Linked DNA regions of Homo sapiens: region 2 is linked to region 1. Evidence: fine-mapped expression QTL. Tissue or cell type: left ventricle. Region 1 holds a variant in brackets; the other region holds the start of a gene. All regions are shown on one strand. Distances are between the middles of the regions.

The links. PIP is the estimated chance that this variant, and not a neighbour inherited with it, causes the effect.
Region 2: it holds the start of ACO1, and the variant in region 1 is fine-mapped to the expression of ACO1 in left ventricle (GTEx, PIP above 0.99).

The regions. Positions count from the first base shown.
Region 1 is chr9:32,516,773-32,524,960 of GRCh38, forward strand. The region is part of intron 1 of RIGI (RNA sensor RIG-I); the gene reads right to left. Among named protein-coding and RNA genes, the nearest start is that of RIGI, 5.3 kb to the right of the region's middle. The variant G/A (reference allele first, on the strand shown) is at 4,519.
Region 2 is chr9:32,379,969-32,388,156 of GRCh38, forward strand. It overlaps ACO1 (aconitase 1), which reads left to right and starts at 4,675. Exons shown (of 21, transcript NM_002197.3): 1 at 4,675-4,767. RefSeq lists a silencer at 4,476-4,855.

The DNA of each region.
Region 1 (8,188 bases):
GTTAGTGTCTTTTTTGGGTACCAGACAGTGGGATCGGCTTCTCTCAATTTGGAAAATTCCTAAGAAATTTCTGTTTGCAGGTTAATAAAGCCCGATTGAGAGAGAAAAGCACCTCGACTGTTTCAGTTTGGACACTGTTCGGGCTTGTCTATTGCTTCAGCAGTCGGATTGTGTTTTGTTGATTGTATGTGTCAATATAGTAATGGGAAATTAGAATTCAACAAACAAATATTCTTTTGTACTACGTTTGCCCCAATATTCTTTGGAATCTGGAGTTGGCTGTTGAATGGGAAAGCCAGGTGGAGTCCCATGTATTCTGGCTTTTATGCCGCTGTTTTAAGCAGGGTTGGGCCTGGTGAGTAGTTTCCACATGACGTTCTTCTGTAGTGCTGTTTGGCCCCAGGTTTCTTTGGAATCTAGCTTCTAAAAATCAAACTGCCATGGAAACTGCTTTACCCAAAATTCTGGTTCACAGCCTTCATTGGATTACCGATTGGAGCAAACAAATTTTAGCCATGTGGACTTGGTTGTAGATTCGTGAGTTTGTATTGCTATCTCATGGCTAGAGTTCCAAGGTAAAAGCTGTTGGATCTTTGTGTGTGTATACATGTTTAGATGTGTTTATCTAGATGTACATTAACTATGTTATACACTATACCTACCAAATTGGCTTATAAATAAGAGTGCTCATAAATTAAGTCCAAAGTGTTTTTCAAGTTCACATGACTTCAGTAAATCTTTAATAAACAAGCTGTCTTTAAAATTATTGGTAAAATAAAAATAGAAATGTCTTCAGAATTGTCAGCATACATTTTTGTCTCGGCTTTATATTTGTCTCAGCTAGATAATTTGAGGTATCAGAGTTTGGCAGCAGGTTATAAAGCTATAAACCCAGTGAATATTTGTGTGAATTCTTTATAAGACTAATTTAATGCTGTTAGTTTAATGAAAACAGCTGAATCTTCTGAGTTATTGATCAAAATGCCCACGTATTAATTTTAAGGTTATTTAGGTGAACACCTGACATTCACAGGTTATAAAATGGTTAAGAAGGAAATGATGCAGAAATAATCTAGATAAACTGCTAAAAATAAATAAAATGTAAATGGTCAAATGCTGTAAATGAACTTTTGGCATAATCGGAAATATAATCATTGGATGTTTGAGTCATTTCCAATTAAGAAAAGGTTATGATGTGGGGAACATGTTTCTAAAAATTGTGGAATGGTTCTCATCTATAAAATACTAATATCTGCTAGGCAGCTCAAGATTTCTTGCTTCCTAGGTTTTTACTGAAATTTAAGGTTGTTACTAAGGATAAGAATTCTAGTTCATATGTAATTCTATATATAAAATGTGCAAAAGACAATGTGTTTTTATTCAGAAAAAAATTTTATCTAACTCAGAAGTTATCTAAAGTTTATTAATAATTATGGACTTGAAAGGTTACTTATGAAACAAGGTAGAAAAGAACAAGTAGACGAGAGAGATGTGGAGAAAGTTATGAGTATAAAGATGTATTTTTGGTAAGGAAGGTTATAAAGAAAATAATTTTGTATGACAAAGCATCTTATAATGGTATTTTTTTTGTCCTAAAGTAAAATGACTGTTTAAAAAAAAAAAAAGAAGAAGAAAAAGAACGAAAATCCAGGACAAATCAGAAAGTCTAAGCATATCATAGATGGTGTGTGTAAGTCATGTAGTTTCTTTCCTATTTCTTTGTGTGTCTACCTTTATGTACAGACAGAGAAAATACAAAGTATAAAAGGCTTAAATAATATTCTCTTAAAACCAGATAGAATATTGGAGAAATCTGGCTAATTAACACTGCTCATAGTTAAAGCTCTTAGTCTTGATGAAAGTAAAATAAGAAATATTGTAAAGAAACACATTGGCAGTTTGGCAATCCTTTCTTAATATAGTTAACCATGAAGCCAGATAAAAGCCAGATATAGCAACAACCAAATTTCACCTACATGCTTGCATTGCTTCACACTGTATTTGCTCTTCTGCATAGATATACTATCATTACAGTATAATACTTACTGGTCGGCCTCCTCCAGAGTAGCTGGGATTATAGTTGTGTGCCATCATGCCTGGCCAATTTTTGTATTTTTAGTAGAGATGGGGTTTTACCATGTTGGCCAGGCTGGTCTCAAACTCCTGGCCTCAAGTGATTCACCCATCTTGGCCTCCCAAAGTGCTGAGATTACAGGCCTGAGCCACCACGCCCAGCCTAAAGTGAATTTCTTAATTGCACAAAATATATAGTGGTATTGGTGAACTTAAAGACATTAAATTGTGCATCAGGAACAAAATATTCATCATGTGTTTTTTTGGCTCTGGGTAACACTATAGCCTCCAAGTTAAACTGAGTAGAAAATTTTCAGGTTGGTTTCCTGTTTGTTTTTTCTTTTAATTTGCATTTATTTGCTGTTTCTTCTTCTTTAGGTTTTACTTATATATACATATTAATAAAACCATTGATGGCTTTTAGTTTCTAATGTAAGGAAGGCTTTTATTTGGTTCCATGAATAATCATTTTGTTTCCTATGCATTTCCAGTATCTCATCATTTGCTCTACTTATCCAAAGTTCCTAAGCTACCTTTTTCAAGCTTCCAAAAATTGTTGGTGGACACCAGCCTTTAAAATTTGTTTGGTTTTGCTTACCTCTAATGAACTAGAGAGCTATAAGAACTTTAAGATTCCTGGCAAAAAATAATAAAAGGTTTATTCTTCTAAGTTCTGAACAGAAATAGTACATTATTATTGGTTATTTGGAAAAGTAGGTGAGAGAAATGTTTAAGTGGTGTTTATTTCCAAGGTAATTCAATTCAATAAACAATAGCGGTTTCAGATCTTTTCCTTTAATGAGGCAAAACTGCTATATGGGTACAAAGTCTTAATATTCAGAAAAAAATTGGCTTTGTCTTTAAGGAAATTATATTGATTGGGCTTTCTCTCAAACTAATTTAGTTGTGTTTACTATTATTAAGATTAAATAACATTTACTTGGATTAAGTCATAAAAAAAATTATAAGACTTTCTAGTGTTTTTTTTATCCTAAGCCATTTATCACTGATGGGCCTTCACATGTATACTTGAAAACAAAATATGTACATACAAGTGTTATGCCAGTTTGAAGATTCTAGTGGTGTAAGTCACTTAAATCAGTTGTCAGTACTTTATCTAGAAACCAATCTTGGAAATGTATGATGAGGCTCTTTCAAAATAGCTGAAAAGAAATTACTGTGTGCTTATTGTCACTTTGTCCTTGTTTTGTTGTATACTTTTTAAATGAAAGATTTATCTTCATATTGAATTTCCAAAACTGATACTTGCATTTACCATTTTTTTTTTTAATGATGGAAAGAAAAGTTAACTATCTTACTTTGGTAAGTTTGGCACAGGACTTACCACATTTTTGAGGCTCTAGGTCACAGTTTTGTCACTAGAATGCTAGCAGATAAATGCAAGGAGTAACCTAACCACTTTAATACAATGGATTGTATAATGGGTTGAAGTGTTTCAGACAGTAACTACTAGGCACCAAATCCCAGGGTTTTATTTTGTGACATATTAGAGAGAATGATGAGGTTTCCTGCAGTATAAATATGCTATTAAATAATTCTTAGGAAACAATTATTTAGTAATTCAAAGGCCTTTGACTCCTGGATCCAAAAAAGACACCAATACCTGCTAAATCTTGAGCACTGACACCAAATGAAGCCTCGTCTTCAGACTCAGGAGAAGGTGACAATCAAAATGAACTGCTTTCATGAGACATAGGGCTAGAAATTAAAACCATTCAATCCCTCTACGCCCAGGAACTATTGCACAAAAGGTGAGCACGTGAGCTTGTAAGGGCTGATTTTGAGTTATAAAATTAGTTCAGGGTTTTTCTATAAATTAAACATTAACATCAAAAGCACACTGATGCAAGGCCAATGTCTGGGCCCCTGTGTCATAACAGGGTTTTCTTGGAGCATTACTCTACTCTTTAATAGGAAATCGTAAAACGTTATAAAAAGATGGCTGGGTGTGGTGGCTCAGGCTGGGCGTGGTGGCTCAGGCCGGGGCTGGTGACTCAGGCCGGGTGTGGTGGCTCACGCCTGTAATCCCAGCACTTTGGGAGGCCGAGGCAGGCGGATCAGCTGAGGCCACGAGTTGGAGACCAGCCTGGCCAACATGGTGAAACCCCGTCTCTACTAAAAATACAAAAATTAGCCAAGTGTGGTGGCATGGCCTGTAATCCCAGCTACTAGGGAGGTTGAGGCAGGAGAATTGCTTGAACCCAGGAGGCAGAGGTTGCAGTGAGCCAAGATCGCACCACTGTAGCCTGGGCAACAGAGCCAGACACCATCTCAAAAAAAAAAAAAAAAAAAAAAACTTCACAGAAATCCTATCTTATAGTCAAACTGATTAAAATTCGGCTTATAAGGTTTTATTAAAATTAGCTTTAACATTAAAAATATACCATACAAAGGTAAAATTTGATGTTCTCTTTTGAATAAAAT[G/A]TTTGTATAATATTGACATAAAATATTTGTTTACCTTTTGAGTGAACTGTGGGGGGAAGAAAAGGAAGAGGGAGAGACATTTAGTTGGCCTCATGCTGTCTTTATTAGGCCTTATTGTTGGGAAACTGAGTCGCCTATCAAAGGGTAAATGTGTTTGTTTTATCTTTTTGGCTAAATGAATAACTATTTTGTAGCGACCTGTGATCCTATTTTGTGATATCAAGTGTCTTAAATCTTTGATACTGACAGACTTCCCAACAGCAAATATTTCAAGTTCTAAATTCAGGGGGTTTTTTTTAACCTCAAACTAACTTTTTTGTGTATTAGCTTCCTTGAATTCCAATACAGACAGACATGTTAGGCTTCTTTGGTATATTAGAATTATACAGGCAGCATTATCAAATGTGAGGTGGTATTTAACTTCCTTTGGGTTATATTTGTATAGATGTGCTATTAATATGTGTTGCAGGACTATATGAGATTCCTAAAATTCTGATATGTCTTAATATATGGTGTCAGTAATGATGATTATTATGTTAAATTGTTGTATGCCAACAGAAAAAAAAATTTCCTTGTCAACTGTGTCTTTATGGCTCTCCTAAGACTTTTGTCATTGCAATTGTTGTTTTGCATTGATTCTTTTCAAAAAGTGACTTATAATCAGATATAGTCCAGAGCTTGTTTATTTAGGGGACTTCATGAAAAGGAGTCTTGAATGCAGATTTCTGATAACTTTGGAGACTGTGCCACTGGAATACAGAAAACTTCTAGGACTCTTAATTAGAGTCCCTCTTAATTAAAAGGCTGACATGTTTATAAAGATTACTAACCCAATATGAAACACAGCAGGAGTTGATTGCATGGACTGAACTAATGTGGGACTGAAATAATTTTTTATGGTTTTGTTTGAAAAAGTCTGGAGAATTTTTGTTTTTTGGAATCTGGAGAATTTTTTCTTTTAAGCTCTTCATAACCTTTAAGAATACAGTATATTAAGTAGAGTATACCCTTTTAAACAGAATTTGAGGCATTTTCTCTCTCCCTAATTTCTCCAGAATTTATAAACTATTTGTGAATATTCTTAGTTCATGGCAATGTGTTTTCTTGCATACATTTAATAAAAATCTGTTTTCTTTTATAAGGGGACACAGTTGGAGGAACAAGTTATTTTCCCAGGGCTTTGACTGAAATGGCCTTGTGAGAGGTTCCAGCAAAGCCAATTAGGAGAGCCCATATGGACAATAATTTTTGCTGCACTTTGTGTGGGTAAATAAGCCAAGTATATGTAACTGAGGCTTATTTTGCAGGTAGGCCCATCCAGCTGTGATATGTCTTTGGTGGAAGCGGGGAACAGTAATGATACAGATTGTGTCTCAGAAGAAAACTATAGTATTAGATTAACTTTTGATTCCTGGATGGCCACGTGGTCACCCATAGTATGGAACTGCCCACCACGCCATTCCTCAGCATGAAGCTGCCAGAAAGATTGAGGATCAGATTCCCCATGATCCAGGAATTGATAAATAGAAAGAGGGGGACTGAAACCAACACAATAGTCCCATATACAATTCTTTCGAATAAACATGGAAATTGACCCTCCTGATCTTAAAGCTGAAACTTATATTTGTTTTATCTGAGTTCCTTCCCCAGGAAAAGGACCCCCAGGCCTCTCAAAAGGTATAAAAGAACTGAAACTCATCAGACCATCACATCCAGACAATGAGACACCAGGCCCCTCATTTATCATGATTGCTTCCTTACCCCTCCAGAGTCCATTTTCCAACACCTAGTTATATTTCTTTCCTTCTATCCATACCCCTAATTTCAACGGGTCAGGGAGATGGATTTGAGACTGATCTCCTACCTCCTTTGCTGCAGCTCCCAATTAAAGCCTTGGCAAAACTTGTTGTCTCAGTGATTGGCTTTATGTGCAGCCAGCAAAAGAACCTAGGCTGAATCCCTGGTGTTTCAGTAACAATTGCACCCACTCTCATTGTTTCAGCAAGGATCTCCACATTAATGTCTCCCCAACTGTGGACCCTTTTCCTGAACTCCACACCTGTGCAGCCAACAATCTGATGAACATCTCTTCATGGATGTATCCAAGGCATACAAACCCAGCATACCTAAATCCGAATTTTTCTCCTCCTCCTGCAAACCTGTCCCTCTTCCCACATTTCCTATCTCAGAAACTACCATTTATTCACCCAAGGACCAAAGCCAGAGACCTGGAAGTCATTTCCACCCTGTCCTCACCCTTACCTCCTCACCACAACTCCCCAAGAGACCTATTGATTATACTTTCCAAATGTGTCTTGAATCCATCCATTTCTCCCCATTCCTCCGGATTCCTATTTTCCTAACTGGTATCCTTGCTTCCAGTTTTTCCACTCTGCTGTCCTGGCATCATTGCATCTGCCATTCTCTCTCTCCCTGTCTTGTACCTATTCAAGCCATTCCTCAAACTGAAGTCAAAGTCGTTTTTCTACAATGCAAATTCTATTTTGGTCCCCTCTCCTTATCACATTTCAGTGGATAAAGTCCAAAACTGTTCATATCCCACTTCTGCTTGCCTGTCAAGTTTCATCTCTCTGAACTCCTGCCTCTCTCTCCACAATGCCACCATACTAATATTTTCTGGATACCTGGAACACTCTAGTTTCTCTTTCACCTTGGACCTTTGCACATAAGGAGCCCTCTAACTGCAATTTATTGTCTCCTTCCAGCTAATTTTTCCTCTTTCTTTAGACCTCAGTTCAAATGCCAAATATCTGGGAAGCTTTGGCTGTGCCCTTTGGACTCTAGTAGACATCCCAGCTTTTTTCCATCAAAGCACTGCTGCACTTTATTATTTACTATTTTGTTACCTGCATTCACATAGACACACTAATCACTATTAGGGCAGGGACAGTTTCTACTGTGCTCATCATTGCTTCCTCAACTTTCAATGACACTATTAGGTAATAGGTGCTGAGTAAATTACCTCCAATGCTAACATAATACTGACACGAGTTGCTTATTTTATTCCATCAAAGTGTATCAAATCAATATATGAGTGCATGAAAAAATGGAATTCACACCAGTTGTTAGTGTTTCTTCCAAGTACTTCTTCAGGTGCCAAGCTACACTGGTCACTAGAATGCCATTCCACAACCTTTCTTTTAGTTTTGTAGAGCAATTAGCATTCAAGTTAGTTGCCGGTCTTAACGCCATTTCCAAAAACTGCAATAACATCAGGAAAGACTGGCACTTGGAGACTTTTAGGATTCCCAGGCCCCCTCTCATCGACTTTTTTTTGTTTTTCGGTTTTTTTTTTTTTTTTTTTTTTTTTTTTGGAGACAAGAGTCTCACGATGTCACCCAGGCTGAGTGCAGTGGTGCGATCTCACCATAACCTCTGCCTCCCTGGTTCAAGCGATTTTCATTCCTCAGCCTCCTGAGTAGCTGGGACTACAGGAGTGCACCACTACGCCTGGCTAATTTTGTATTTTTCGGTAGAGACGGGGTTTCACCATATTGGCCAAGCTGGTCTCGAACTCCTGACCTTGTGATCCACCCGCCTAGGCCTCCCAAAGTGCTGGCTGCAGGGAGCCGAAGGCCCTTGGGATGTGACCAACTCAGCATTCCGCTGGAGGCTATATGATCAAACAGCAAACTGTTTATCATGAATG
Region 2 (8,188 bases), 140 kb before region 1:
GACAAATTTTTATTTTTACTCTCATTTGTCAACATTACCAAATTATTTTCTTGAAAAAAATGTTTTATTTTGTGTATACCTAAATAATTTAAAGGACCAATCCTGCAGAGTACTTCCCTCTCCCTTCTGAAAAATATATAACACAAAGTACTCAAAAAGTATCCAGCAAATTAACACATGTGAAAGATGGTACTAGACACCTAGGAATTATGTACCAATCCTGGAATTCATACTCAAGCTGCCCCTGATTTCCAACACCTCCATCCCCCAGAATGAGGACTCTCTTTACCCAGGTGTCCCTACATTACATGGCTGCAGCAGGGATCTCTGTGCTATCATCAGGGAGAACAAGCCCTGGAAATACGTGAATAAGGAATTCCAGCCTATATGGTGATAGAACAAATCTTTTCTCTAGAACATTTAAGTCCCTCTTCTGCAAAGAACAAATAATTTACAGCTTCAGGGTATCTGATGATTTTGTTGCATAATGCTTAAAAGCACAAGCTATGGAGTGAGGCCAGCCTTCTCTAAAACCCCAGGATCACCCTTTAAGTTTCATGACTGAAGCATTCTGTGTAACTACTCTGAATCTCAGTTTCCTCATCTGTGAAACTATGGCAATAACAATGTTACCAGCATCAACAGGCGGTTGTGAAGATTTTTATTATTAGCTATATTGAGAGGAATGGTGCTTAACTGTAAGCAGCTGCCCAGAGGATTCTTGTTCCCTGGGAAGGCAGTTCAGGGATCAGGCCCTTAGGCAGTAATTAAGAGAGCATGCAAATTAAGCGTATAGCAGGTGTGGTGAGAAGAGGGCATCAGGGGAGAGCAGTTGGCTATTTACCGGGAACCAAGATGAGGCTAAGACCTGCCTCTCCTTGTTATGAATATAACTTTGATTTTAAGAGGAACAAAACATTTATTTCAAATTTTCTCTAGTATGAAGACATATATTCAGTGAAAAATTTAGGGATTCTAAAGTCCCCTCAAAGCATTCAGGAGGACCATTTTATACTTCATTCATTGCCAAACAGATGTCTTCCCTCCGTGCCACTCTAGAGGACTCTGAACAGCGCAAAGGCCAACAGAGAGCAAAGGGTAAGCAATAGAAAGACACTGACAGTAAGTCAGTCAACAAACTTGTATTGAGCACCTACTATGCACCAGACTCCATGTTAGGGATGATGAACAAACTGACATGGGCCCCTGCCCTCATGGAGTGTATATTTCTAGGTAACAGGTCTTTGGTGCCAATCTGGGGACATGCTACAGCAGAATCACCTGTGGTAAAAATGTAGCGTATTCAGAATCTGAACACAGACCCCCACCCTGACCTAATGAATCAGACATTCTAGGAGGCAGAGGATACAGGAGGCTATATTTTTATCAGTGCCCTATGGTAAATCTGAGAAACACCCAGATTCGGAGAACTACCATTGGTGTTTCTCAAAGCATGGTCTTTTGACCACCCACATCAAACTCAGCCTCCTAAGAGCACAACACAGGCACGCATGTTTTCAATGTACCCCAAGGTTTGAGAAGCGTTATGCTTGACTTTTTCTCTTACACCTCTCCCTTCCTATTAAATGACATGTATGTGAAAATGCAGTATAAATTGTAAAGCATGATACAAAGTTAGTTGGGTATAGTTCCTAGGACCTTTCAATAAACTGAGGAAGTCCAGCATATACAAGTAACTGAAATCGGTGTGGAATATGATGAGGCATTCCTCAGAGCTCAACAGGTCTCTGGCAGAATCTTCATGGTTCTTCTTATAGCAGCAGAGCCTTCTAGCAGGTAAGGCTGCTAAAACAATACTGTTACTTCAAATGAAGGTCCTTCTGCCTCTGCCCCCCACCAGAGCACAGCTGGGGTGCCTGAGCAGTTACATGCTTGGGTGGCATCCTCTCTGAAGGTCCCTAGAGTATATGCCCTCAGCTGGGCCATTAGCAGAACCTTTTATATCGTGACAGAAATATTTGTTAGGTGGACCCTGTGAGAGCGTAGTAATATGCCATGGCAATATACCCCTTAAACATTTAGCTTTCTCAGCAGATCATGAAATACAAATTCGGGATGCAGGATTAGGATGAAAAAGAAACTAAATGGATAGGAGGGGAGAGACAGATGGTTAGAGAAGACACTAAATTCCCATTTTAGATGTGATGAATGACAGGCACTGATATGGTTTGTAATCCCCACCTGTGGAGGGAAGGAGGTGATTGGATCATGGGGATGATTTTTATTATTAGCTATACTGAGAGAAACTGTAAGCAGCTGCCCAGAGGATTCTTGTTCCCTGGGAAGGCAGCTCAGGGATCAGGCCCTTAGGCAGTAATTAAGAGAGCACGAAAATTAAACGTATAGCAGGTGTGGTGGGAAGAGGGCATCAGGGGAGAGCCGTTGGATATTTACCGGGAGCCAAGATGAGGCTAAGACCTGCCTCTCCTTGTTATGAATTTAACTCTTTTTTTCTTAAAGAGGAACAAAACGTTTATTTCAAATTTTCTCTGGTATGAAGACATATATTCAGTGAAAAATTTAGGGATTCTAAGGTCCCCTCAAAGCATTCAGGAGGACCACTGTGCATTCAGAGGACACTCTCTTGCCTGCTGCCAGGTAAGACATACCTGCTTCCCCTTCTGCCATAATTGTAAGCTTCCTGAAGCCTCCCCAGCATGCAGAACTGTGAGCCAATTAAACCTCCTTCCCTATGAATTACCCAGTCTCAGGGTTCTTTACAGCAGCGTGAGAACGGTCTAATACAGACACCTTTGGAATATCCAGGTGGGGTTGCCACATATGGCTGCAAATCAAGAGTGTGAAGGTCAGAAAGTTAACTAAGACCAATGACAGAGACATAGCAGGCTTCAGCTAGAAGTGGCAGGCAGTCTGCATACTGAGAAAATAGATGAAGAAAAACTCAGCAAATGGAGAAACATATAAAGCAAGAGGAGAGAGTGTAGGGAAAGACCTTAAAAAAGAGGGACAAAAGAGGGAAGAGGTGACTCCTAAGAGCGGAGGGCTGAAAAGCCAAAAGGAGGTTAACATTTCTAGGAAAACGAATCGCCAGTGTCAAATACCACAGAGTAGTGAGTAAGGACAGGAACAGAGGACAGGCCCTGGGATTCACGATCTGCACGTCACTGGTGACAACGTCCAAGAGCAACAGACTGGGGGGATGTGGAACTATTTCCTTCACGGTTTTGACCAGCGTGCTTACTAATAAATCTCAATTCCCTTCATAGCTCTGATTTGATTGTTTTCTGCGAAGGATTCTCAGTTACACGGATGTTATCATTGAACATTAGATACTTTGCTTTCCGAATGGCTGCCTCATTAAGAATCGCAATTTAGCTGGATGTGTCCTCATCGGACTTCCCCAGCCTTCTACTCACTCTCACCTTGCCCCTACTCTCCCTACCTCCCAAGGGGACTGGAGCATGATTTTTCAGGGATTGTGGTGCACCTCTGCCATATGGTGGACATTCAAAGAAAATTTAATTACTAATGTGAATGGAAAGGATTTAGGAAGTGGGTGGGAAAACAGTCTCCTCTCATATTGGAAATACAGTTACTTCCCCTTTCAAAATAAATATAAGTATTTATATTTCAAAGTTAAATATAACTAGACGATAGTTGTACCCTATAGTGCAGTATGACAGGGAAGGTGTAGGCTTTGGTGTCAAACCAACCTAAGGACTGAGTCTCAGCTGTTGCGCATTGCACACCTGCAAAGACGGGTAATATTCTTTACTTGTAAGGTGGTTGGAAGAGCTGAACTGAATAACGTGGAAAGAGTCGATCACAGGGCTTTGTGCAGAATAGGAGGGCAGTATAAAGTAGCAGGGGGGCTATTAGTACTGGCTATTGTTTACTCATCCTATAAGCTGCTTATTCAGAAAACTACAGTAACTTTCCAAATAATTTGGGCAGGAAAACCTCACCACCTTTCATCTAGAAAGATCTAATCACTTCTTTGAACGCCATTCACCCAAGAGGGCACAACTCCTACCAACATGAAAAGCAGATCTTGTGAAAGCCCACTTGCTGCCATCTCCCAGCCATTTCTCCGACTTCAGACCGGTGAACATCGTGCATTAGAAAGTGTTGTTACATGTCCAAGGAAATCTACATATAGAACTTTTGCCACGGAAATGCTGAAGTCCTATTCTGACAGCGTGACTCCGATGTCCACTTGGCAGGCTTTGCGCAAAGAATTAAGGCGAGGGTGGAGAGGGTGGGTAGGGTGGGGACGGACAAAGTGAGAAGGGAGGCGGGCCAAGTGACCACACGTACATGAAGCCTCTCCAGTTATGGCCAAATCATTTTTTAAAAATAATTCCATTTCTTCCCCACCCTTTGGTCACTTCCTAACGCCGGCTGGGGAGTCACATGCTAAGCTCCAAAGTGAGCAACAGACACCCTCGTCCCAGGTCCCATGCTGGCAGAAGCGGACCCGGGCCGAGGGATCAGCCCTCCCACTTCCAGCGGAGGAGCCCTTCGCAACCCTAGCCTCCAGCCCGGGGCGAAGTCCTCCAGGCCCGCGGGGGCGCCCGCAGGCTCCGCCCCTTCTTCGGCTAGCTGCCCGTCCGTCCCGCCCCTGCTCCGCCCTTCCCGCCCCTGCTCCGCCCATCGCGCGGCGGCCCCGGGGGCGAGAGGGGGCGGAGCGTGGAGGCGGCAGCTGGAACCGCGCAGCGCACGGGAACGCGTCCCGCTGCTTGGGTCAGGTTCGCCGGTCGCGGGAGCCCCGCCGTGCAGTCGGAGGTGAGTACCGACGCGGCCCGACCCACGTCCCCAGGCGGGAGCGCCGTCCACCCTGTATCCCTCGAGAGTCGGTGCGGGCCTTTACCGAGGTGCCCGAGGCAGTGGCGGCACGGGGGACACGGAGGCGAGCTTGGGGAGGCTGAGAGGAGAATCGGGGACGTGTTTCTGGCGACTGACGTCTCCACCCTGTCCCCAGTCTATGTCATGCCGGGGAGAGAAACCAGGGATTGGAAGTGGCTTTCCTAGACCCTTCTTAGCCTTGGCTGTGCGTGCTGTCCTGAAAGTCCTTGCCTAGGGTGTGCGGCCAGTCCTGGGAGTCCTAACCCCGAGGGTGTGAGGCCCGCACTGGGAGTCCTCGCCCAGGCCCGGCTGGCTGGATAGGGAAACCCTTGCTAAAGTTGTGCGGGCAGATCCGGGAATCCACTCCAAGGGGTAAAGGGAAAATGGGATGAGGGGGAAGAGACCCTTCGTGGGAGGCTTGAACACAGAGCCCACCATGATAGATTCAGAGATCTAGAAAGGAGCTTGGGCTGCAGTTATGACCAAGTCATTTTTTTCTAGATTCAGCTAGCACATCATAATGGCATCTTCCTTCTTGCAACACATGTAACTCTCTTCCCTGGGGGACAACCTCTAGGACAGAAGTCCCCAAACTTTTCTGGTACTCAGTACTCCTTTACACTCTTAAAAATTAGTATCTTAAGGAGCTTTTATGTGTGTTATATCTATCCATATTTATAATATGTAAGTAAGACTGAGAAATTTGTACTATAATAATTCATTTAAAAAGAATAGTGAACTAATTATATCTTAACATTGCCTATTTTTATGAAAAAGAACTATATTTCCCAAAACAGAAAATGATTGAGAAGAGTGGCATTGTTTTACATTTTTGCAAATCTCTTTGATGTCAAGCGTAATTGAAGACAGCTGGATTCTGATAGCTGCTTCTGCAGTCTGTTGCAATATCACATATCATGTAGCCTCTTGAGACCTCCACTGTATACTCCTGAAAATGTGTGAATGAAAAAAAGCAAGTAACATTTTATTACTAGGAAAATGGTTTTGACTTTGGAGATCCCTAGGAGTTCTCTGCACCACACTTTGAGGATGCTGGTGTAGGAAATGCTTCAGAGGCTTCATTCATTGGGCCTGCTTCTTGTTTGTGATCCTTCCTCTGATTGGGAACACACACCACCTCATGCCATGGACAGTATTAACCTCTGGTATCTGGAACCAAGTTTGATCTCACTTTGGAAACCATGTACTAGGTCCCCACGTGAGGCTGTGATGAACCTTGCCAGCCTCCTGAAAAGTCAGCAAGGCTTCGCACATGCCTTTGGTTGTCTCTGTGCTTGCAGAGCTGACCTGTCTGTGCATCAGGATTACAACAGTGATGTGGCAAACAGGACCTGTAGGCTCACAAAAGTGCCAGTGGGGAGACCATGCCAAGTGTGTAGGGGTTCCTGTGAGAGTTACCAAGTAGTCAGGAAGTTATTTCCAAAAGAACAAGGAGGCATGCTTTTGCCTTCCCTTGCACGTGTTCATTTCTGTTTGCAGTTGCATGGTTATTAGCCTTGAGTTTATTGGAATAATGATTTCCAGTCTTGACGTTCTTTCACTTTCCACTTTCAGAGGGTGTCACTCTGAGTGGTGCTTCCTCAGCCCCTGTCAAAAAGCAGTTTCCACCATCCTGGAGTGTGGTAGGTGAGGTCCTTCACGGGACTCTTTCCTTAGCTTCGTGCCTTGTCAGAACAAGTTCAAGACAGATGTTATGTGTATATATTTGGGAGGAAGAAATTTTCTAACTCCATCCTCCCTTTTGTTCCTTCATCCATAGAGCCTCTTGTGCTCTGATGGATCAGTTTAAATGCTACAGCCGATACTTGAGAAATGTTGCATGCACATGAGCGTGTTGTGTGTGTTGCACAGTCCACAGGTGAGGAGGAGGAGAAGTCCACAGGAGAAGGAAATGGGATCTAAACTCTGAGCACCTGCTGTGTTCTTTGTATTAAAAAATTCCACTTTGATGGTGGGGTCTCATTCCTTCATTCTTTCAGTAGATTTTTATTGGCCACCTATTTCTCATGTGTCCAGTTATGTGCGGGATGCCAGGAAAGTAGTGAGCACAAAAGATGCAGTCCCTGTCTTTCTGGCAATTATGGTCTGATAGCTTTGATAACTGCTGGTTAATTGAGATAGTCTATTATATAGTCAGAGTGTGTACATGAAAGCTGGTCCTGTGTGAAGAGCAGTACCCCCTACCTAAAGTGTGCTTCAAAGGCATGTGCTGAAGAAACCAGTCCCACACTGTGAAGATGATGATAAAAACCAACGTGTATCACCACGTGCCTGGCAAAGAACTTCCTTTGCCTTCTTTCCCCCACTCTTCCTTCTACATAGGAAGTAATTTCCTGTGAGGCAGCCAGATTCACAGGGAAATTACCTCCAACCTGGTGCCAGTCACTGGGCCAGCCTCGGGTTAAGACACTTTCTCTGGGTCTCAGTGTCTTTGACTTTAAAATGAGGAGTTAGGCCATTGATAGTAAGTGTCCCAAGGAGCCAGTGGTTTCAGAGCTGGTTTATACTAGCATTTGTGCATATCTCTTCCTAACTCCGTGTTCAGTGGCAACACATTTTTTAGATTGAAATAAGCCATGGTGGGAATAATAACACCATGGAAATTGGCAAATGCTACATCAGAGCTTTTTTTTCCTCTTGGAGTTCAAGTTGTTAAACCTTTGCCAGCTGACACTGCTATTGTCTGAGCCAAGGTGCTTTTGGTTTGTTTTTTTAGTAGAAAACAGACTCTTTAGCCTAGACAAAGATCCTAGATATAGGGTGTATGATTCAAGTCCTCTAAAATTTTTGATAAGGAAAAAAATCTGTTTTCATCATATTCTAAAATATAGATCAGCAAACTTTTTGTGTAAAGGGACAGGTAGTGAAATATTTTAGGCTTTTTGGGTTATGGTTATACAGTTTCTATTGCAGCTACTCAGCTCTGGTGTTGAAGCACGAAAGCGGCAATAGACAACATGCAAACAAACAAGCATGGCTGTGTTCCAGTCAAACTTGATTTACAAAAACAAGGGCCAGCCATAGTTTGCAGACTCCTGACCTAGACTATCAGAACAAGAACCATGTTTCAAAGAGAGAGTTTTATGGAAAAGGAGATTCTTCAGGACTTTATGCGTGAATACCAGAAACTTGAGTCTCCAAGATGGACGTAGCGGGCAGTAGTAACTGTAGAGGATTTGGAATCAATCATGGAAGACTCCATAGTAGGTTGTTTAAAGGAAGGCCAAGTGTGTTGAAGTTTTGAGGACAGAGCCACATATGGGTCTTATTCCCAACTCCCTCCCTGGAGCCATCTCAGATGTTATGCTAGAATGGATGTACCTGCAGTCTAACCCGTTGT